Linked DNA regions of Homo sapiens. The protein of the gene in region 1 interacts with the protein of each later gene in a biochemical or structural test. Each region holds a gene or a part of one and is shown on either strand. Other genes may lie near its edges.

Region 1 (3,500 bases):
TGTAACTAATATTTTCAAGTATACTAATATATTTTTTAATCCCTTACTATAATCTTTACTACAATCTTTTTACTACATGATCGCCCCACTTTTTTTTTTTTTTGGTTGCATATATTGGTATTTTTTAACTTTCATTCCTCATCTCAGTATTATCAAATATTTGCTGCTGTGTCAACCATAGCATTCAAGTGACATGTCTTAATAAGATATTGTTTCTGAATTTTAAATGATAGAAATCTGAATGATAACGTTCATTTTGCGTTGTATTCAACTTGGAAGAAAAGGATAGTTTTAAATTAGATTTCTAATAAATGCTACCTGATTAAGATAGTTTTTTTCAAAGCACATTCCAGGCATGTTGATTATAAAAACAATAGGAGACAAACATTTTCTATTTACATGCTGTATTTTTTAGATCCCTGAAGACATCAAAAACCTATTCAGTTTATGGATATACAGTCCTCCACTTCAATATTTTTGGCAATTTTGTTTCTCATTAAGCACTTTTGCTTAGATGTTGAGTCAAGCAGAGGAAAGACCAGAGACAGATATTTAGGGTAGCTTTCACTTAGCAGTGCCAGTAAAAGATGTAAGAGAGAGACTTAAAGTCATTTTTAAATTTAGTAGATCATATCATTGTAATCCAGTACTTCATATAATTGCAGATTTGTCCATTGAATAATTAATGAAGTTAAGGGATTGATTGGCAAACCTTGGTTATCAATGTAAATAACATTAACTAGAAATTGTAATTTGTACATAATTATGAAGACATAATTGACCCTCCATATCTGTGGGTTCCATATCTAGGGATTCATCCCATCGCAGTTTGAAAATATTCAGGGGGAAAAAGGAAAAAGGATGGTTGTCACTGTACTGAACATGTACAGACTTTTTTTTCTTGTCATTATTCCCTAAACAATATTATCTAATAACTATTTACATAGCATTTACATTGTATTAGGCATTATAAGTAATCTAGAGATGATTTAAAGCATACAGAAGCATGTGTATAGATTTTATGCAAATACTACACCATTTTACATAAGGGAATTGAGCATTAGTGGACTTTGATGTCCACAGGGGTCCTGAAACCAATTCCCTGAGGATACCAAGAGATGACTTTATGTATTTATGATGTGTGATTTTGTGTTTTAAAAAAGGATTGGGAAGTTCAGCCATGAATATACAAATGCTTTTGGAAAAACTCAAAGGAATTCCCCAGTTAGAAGGCCAGAAGGACATGATAACGTGGATACTTCAGGTAAACTAAAAAAGTAAAGTGATCATATCTTGGTTTAAATATTTAAGAATTCTCTGCTTGCCTCCAGTGTTAAACCACTGTACCATTGTAGACATTTACTACTGGTTTTCATAATCACTTATTTTTCATGTTAATAATTCTATTTTCCTATATTTTATTGTAGTTTTAAAAATAAACTAAGATTTATTCATTTTTTTTGTCGTTATTTAGTCAACTTTACTGAAAACCTACCATGTGCCATGCTCACTTATAGATTTCTAGATGGAACAAGGCAGACAAGGTGCTTACTATCATGGAACATATACTCCAGTTGAGGGACAGACATTAAACAAATAAATAAACAAAAATATCAGGGTAATTCAATAGATGAGTAAGGGGTTACTTTGGGTAATTAGGGAAGGCCTCTCTCAAAACACGACATTAGAGCTAAGACCTTAATGACATGGAGTCAGTCTTAGAAGAGTCTGGAAGAGTACTCCAGGAAGAGGGAACAGCAGTGCAAAAGCTCTGTGGTGGCCAGAAAGAAGGTCAGTATGGCTGGAACATAATGGGTGAGGGATGGAAAAGTGGGCAATGAGATCAGAGGGGTGGCCAGGGGCCGGATCTTGTAGGTCCTTATAAGTCAGCATAAAGTGATAATTTTTTAGGACAATGGGAAAATATTGGAGGATTTTAAGTGACCTAATCTATATTTGTACAAGATGGTATTGGCTGCTGTGGAGTAAATGGATTATGGGGGATAGGCATACAAGTAAGGAAACTGTTAGGAGACTGTTGCAGTAATCTTGATATGAAATAAGCATGACCTAGGCTAAGATGCAGATAGTAAGAATCTGAACTGATTAAGGTGCATGTCGAAGGTGTATGAAGATAAAATCTATAGTACTTGCTCATCAGTCTGATGGGAGAGATGAAGGAAATAAATCAAAGATGAGGCTGGGCATGGTGGCTAGCACCTGTAATCCCAGCACTTTGGGAGGCCAAGGCAGGCAGATCACCTGAGGTCAGGAGTTCGAGACCAGTCTGGCTAACATGGTGAAACCTCATCTCTGCTAAAAATACAAAAAATTAGCCAGGCATGGTGGGGCACACCTGTAGTCCTAGCTACTTGGGAGGCTGAGGCAGGAGAATTGCTTGAACCAGGGAGGTGGAGATTGCGGTGAGCCAAGATCGCACCACTGCACTCCAGCCTGGGTAACAGAACAAGAGTCTGTCTCAGAAAAAAGGAAATCAAAGATGACTCCTGGATTTGGTGCTTGAGCTATTGAGTAGATAGCATTGCCTTTGGAGACGAGTGAATTAAATAAGCAGGGGAGAGAGAGGCCAGGAATGTTACTTTAATGGAAAACCTCCACATAGAAACATAAAACCGGCCAGGCACGGTGGCTCACGCCTGTAATCCCAGCACTTTGGGAGGCGGAGGCGGGTGGATCACAAGATCAGTAGTTCAAGACCAGCCTGGCCAAGATGGTGAAACCCTGTCTCTACTAAAAATACAAAAAAAAAAAAAAAATTAGCTGGGCGTGGTGGCAGGCGTGGTGGCAGGCGCCTGTAATCCCAGCTACTCAGGAGGCTGAGGCAGGAGAATCGCCTGAACTCTGAGGGCGGAGGTTGCAGTGAGCCGAGATCGCACCACTGCACTCCAGCCTGGGCGACAGAGTGAAACTCTGTCTCAAAAAAAAAAAAAAAAAAACCTGAAGCCAGGATTATGGAGCTTCTGCACTCATTGCATTCATTAAGATATTCTGATGTTTTTAGGTAAGTATTGTTTTGATAATCAGAATATATAAAGTAGTTATTTTTCACATTCTTATCAATTGGAAATCTTGGTACTGATTTATACTTTTAAGAGGGCAGCTCTTCTTACCATTTTATTAGAAACAGTCCTTAAGCATGATGTAATATCATTATTGGCCTGGCGTGGTGGCTCACGCCTGTAATCCCAGCACTTTGGGAGACTGAGGCGGCGGGGTCACGAGGTCAGGAGATCGAGACCATCCTGGCTAACATGGTGAAACCCCGTCTCTACTAAAAATACAAAAAACATTAGCCAGGTGTGGTGGCGGGTACCTGTAGTCCCAGCTACTCAGGAGGCTGAGGCAGGAGAATGGCTTGAACCCGGGAGGTGGAGCTTGCAGTGAGCCGAGATAACACCACTGCACTCCAGCGTGGGCGACAAAGCGAGACTCCGTCTCAAAAAAAAAAAGATAGTGATATTATTAAAATTCTTCTTGAA
Region 2 (3,500 bases), on another chromosome or scaffold:
GCTACTTGGGAGGATTACCTGAGCCCAAGAGGTCAAGGCTGCAGTGAGCCCTGGTGGAGCCACTGAGCTCCAGCCTGGGTGACAGAGTGAGACCTTGTCTTTAAAAAAGTTACCAATTTTTCTTAATTTCTTAATTTAAAGACATTTTTATTAGTATTAGGAAGCTCTGGACCCTTGAGTATCTATGTGGGTTTTTTTTGTTTGTTTTTTGTTTTTTGTCTCGCTCTCTCACCCAGGCTGGAGTGCAGAGGCGCAATCTTGGCTCACTGAAGCCTCCGCCTCCGAGGTTCAAGTGATTCTCGTGCCTCAGCCTTCCAAGTAGCTGGGATTACAGACATGTGCTACCATGCCCGGCTAATTTTTGTATTTTTAGTAGAGATGGGGTTTCACCATGTTGGCCAGGCTGGGGCCTTAAACTCCTGACCTCAGGTGATCTGCCCACCTTGGCCACCCGAAGTGCTGAGGCATGAGCCACACCCAGCCGAGTATCTGTCTTTTTAATATTCTGTATGATATGAAGTAGAATGTATGAACAAAGCACTTCTGCATGTCATAGTATGATAGTTGTCTGGAAGAAAAGCACTTCTACAGTTGTTTGAGTTGCAATTTGAATGACTTTTTTTCATGGAACATTTTTTACTTGAAAATACAGACAAGCTGTGGTTATTCAGGTTTGAATATATGGCAGACATATTCTCAGAAGTAATGTAATAAGCTCGGTGTGGTGGCGGGCACCTGTAATCCCAGCTACTCGGGAGACTGAGGCAGGAGAATTGCTTGAACCTGGGAGGCAGAGGTTGCAGTGCGCCAAGATCGCACCATTGCACCCTAGCCTGGACAACAGAGCAAGACTCCATCTCAAAAAAAAAAAAAAAAAACAGTGGGGGGATCTAAGTGGGTTGTTAGGTTAAGGATAGCAACTGAAGATATTTGTTGCTGTTGATAAAATAACAGCTTCCTGATACTTACTTTTTGATGAGATTAGTGGGTAGTGTTACCTGTTGTGATTTTTTTGATAGTATATAATGGAATATGGCAACATTTGGAGGATCTGTAAACTCGAGTCACCCAATATTTTGCAGATGTCCCATGAATAATAATACAAAACCATGAATGGGTAAAACACGTATGTGAAGTGAACAGATTTTAATGTAACTGAGTACAAAAAGTTGACTAATAATTTCAGATTCTATATTGCAGCAAACCTTTAAAAGAACTACCATTTCTTCTTTGGTATAATATCAAAACAGAATAGCTACAGTCACCTGAAAAAGCTATTCAAATACTACTTTTTTTGCTGGGTGCAGTGGTTCATGCCTGTAATCCCAGCACTTTGGGAGGCCAAGGTGGGCAGATCACCTGAGGTCAGGAGTTCAAGACCAGCCTGGCCAACATGGTGAAACGTCGTCTCTACTAAAAATACAAAAATGAGCCAGGCGGGATGGCACGTGCCTGTAATCTCAGCTACCCCAGAGGCTGAGGCAGGAGAATTGCTTGAACCCAGGAGACGGAGGCTGCAGTAAGCTGAGATGGTGCCATTGCACTCCAGCCTGGGCAACAGTGAGACTCTGTCTCAACAAAAAAAAAAAAAAAAAAGGAAGAAAGAAAGAAAGTACTCCTTTTTTCAAGTACATATTTGTGTGAGGCCAGATTTTCTTCATGTACTTAAACTAAACGGTATTGTAATAGATGGAGTGCAGAAGCAGATAAGAGAATCCAGCTATCTTCTGTTAAGCCAGTCATTAAAGAGACAGTTGCAAATATGTAAAACATTGCTTACACTTATCACCAACTTGGGGAGAAATATAATTTTAATTTATATTCTGTGTAATGGGTTTGCAGTTTAACCTACCTTTTTTTTTTGGAGACAGAGTCTTGCTCTTGTCACCCAGACTAGAGTGCAATGGCGCGATCTCTGCTCACAGCAACCTCCGCCTCCCAGGTTCAAGCAATTCTCTTGCCTCACCCTCCTGAGTAGCTGAGATTACAGGCACCCCCATACCCAGCTCATTTTTGTACTTTTAGTAGAGGTGGAGTTTGACCACGTTGGCCAGGCTAGTCTCAACTCCTGACCTCAGGTGATCCGCCCACCTTAGCCTCCCAAAGTGCTGGAATTACAGGCGTGAGCCACCCCACCTGGCTACAGTTATTTTTAATGAAGATTTTCTGAGTTAAAGTTTTTTTGTGTGTGTGAGACGGAGTCTTGCTTTGTCACCCATGCCAGAGCATAGCGGCATGATCTGGGCTCACTGCAACCTCCACCTCCTGGGAGGGTCCTTTGCCATGTGGTAGTCAGACCCTCTCAAAATCCTTTAACCAACTCCCATTCTAAGCTATAATAAACTATTTGTAGTTCTTCAAATATGCATTTTAAATCTTGGTAGCTAGGGCCTAGTTGCCTTCCAAAAATATGACAGTTAACACTCCCACCAATAGCAACATGAATGTGCTTGTTCCCCAACCGCTTGCCAATGCTGCGTGTTACCATTCTAACATAAATAGAGTATATTTAGGATGTTTTGTATGCCGAACCAACGTTGACATACTAACTTTTATGTGGTTGTACAAAAACCAGTATGCAGTTGAGAACTGATGAAGAGATTAAAAAGTCGTGCTTGTCTTTACTATAATTATTTTGTTTTCTCTCTAGGTACTTTTAAACTAGTAATAGAATTTTCTGAAGAATATCCAAATAAACCACCAACTGTTAGGTTTTTATCCAAAATGTTTCATCCAAATGGTAAGTAGCATTTTATAGATTTTGCAGATGATAGTGGGGAAAAGAGTTGTTTCCCTCCTTTTAGCTCTTTCACCTTACTTTTTACTGTTAGGGCTCACTTGTAGGTGTTGCTTCCATGTCCATGTGAGCCACGTATTTTGTTGTGGATTTTTTTTTTTTTTTTTTTTTTTTTTTTTGAGACGGAGTCTCGCTCTGTCGCCCAGGCTGGAGTGCAGTGGCGCGATCTCGGCTCACTGCAAGCTCCGCCTCCCGGGTTCACGCCATTCTCCTGCCTCAGCCTTGTGAGTAGCTGGGACTACAGGCGTCCACCACCACGCCTGGCTAATTTTTTATATTTTTAGTAGAGACGGGGTTTCACCATGTTAGCCAGGATGGTCTCGATCTCCTGACCTTGTGATCTGCCCACCTTGGCCTCCCAAAGTGCTGGGTTTGTTGTGGATTTTTGGTTTGTTTCTTATTTCTTCAGAGACAAAGTTATACTCTGTCACCCCTGCTGGAGTGCAGTGGTACAGTCACAGTTCACTGTTACCTCAAACTCCTGGGTTCAAGTAATCCTCCTGCCTCAGACTCCTAACTAGCTGGGACGACAGGTGTGGACCACCATGCCCAGCTAATTTTTTTGTTTGTTTTCTTTTTCTTTTTTGTAGACACAAAGTCTCTGTGTGTTGCCCAGGCTGGTCCTTGAACTCCTAGCCTCAAGCAGTCCTCCCACTTTGACCTCCCAAAGCACTGTGATTACAGGAATGGGCCATTTTTTCCA

The links. The genes of interacting proteins can lie anywhere in the genome.
Region 2: the proteins of UBR1 (region 1) and UBE2B form a complex in vitro, tested with the Homo sapiens proteins (2 studies listed by BioGRID and IntAct, with this or other methods).

Annotation. Positions count from the first base shown.
Region 1 is NC_000015.10:43,019,039-43,022,538, reverse strand, and holds part of UBR1 (E3 ubiquitin-protein ligase UBR1), read left to right. Parts: intron 1-1,163; coding exon 1,164-1,264; intron 1,265-3,500. UniProt on the Homo sapiens protein: E3 ubiquitin-protein ligase which is a component of the N-end rule pathway. Recognizes and binds proteins bearing specific N-terminal residues that are destabilizing according to the N-end rule, leading to their ubiquitination and subsequent degradation.
Region 2 is NC_000005.10:134,378,069-134,381,568, forward strand, and holds part of UBE2B (ubiquitin-conjugating enzyme E2 B), read left to right. Parts: intron 1-2,650; coding exon 2,651-2,740; intron 2,741-3,500. UniProt on the Homo sapiens protein: E2 ubiquitin-conjugating enzyme that accepts ubiquitin from the ubiquitin-activating enzyme E1 and transfers it to a E3 ubiquitin-protein ligase. In vitro catalyzes 'Lys-11'-, as well as 'Lys-48'- and 'Lys-63'-linked polyubiquitination.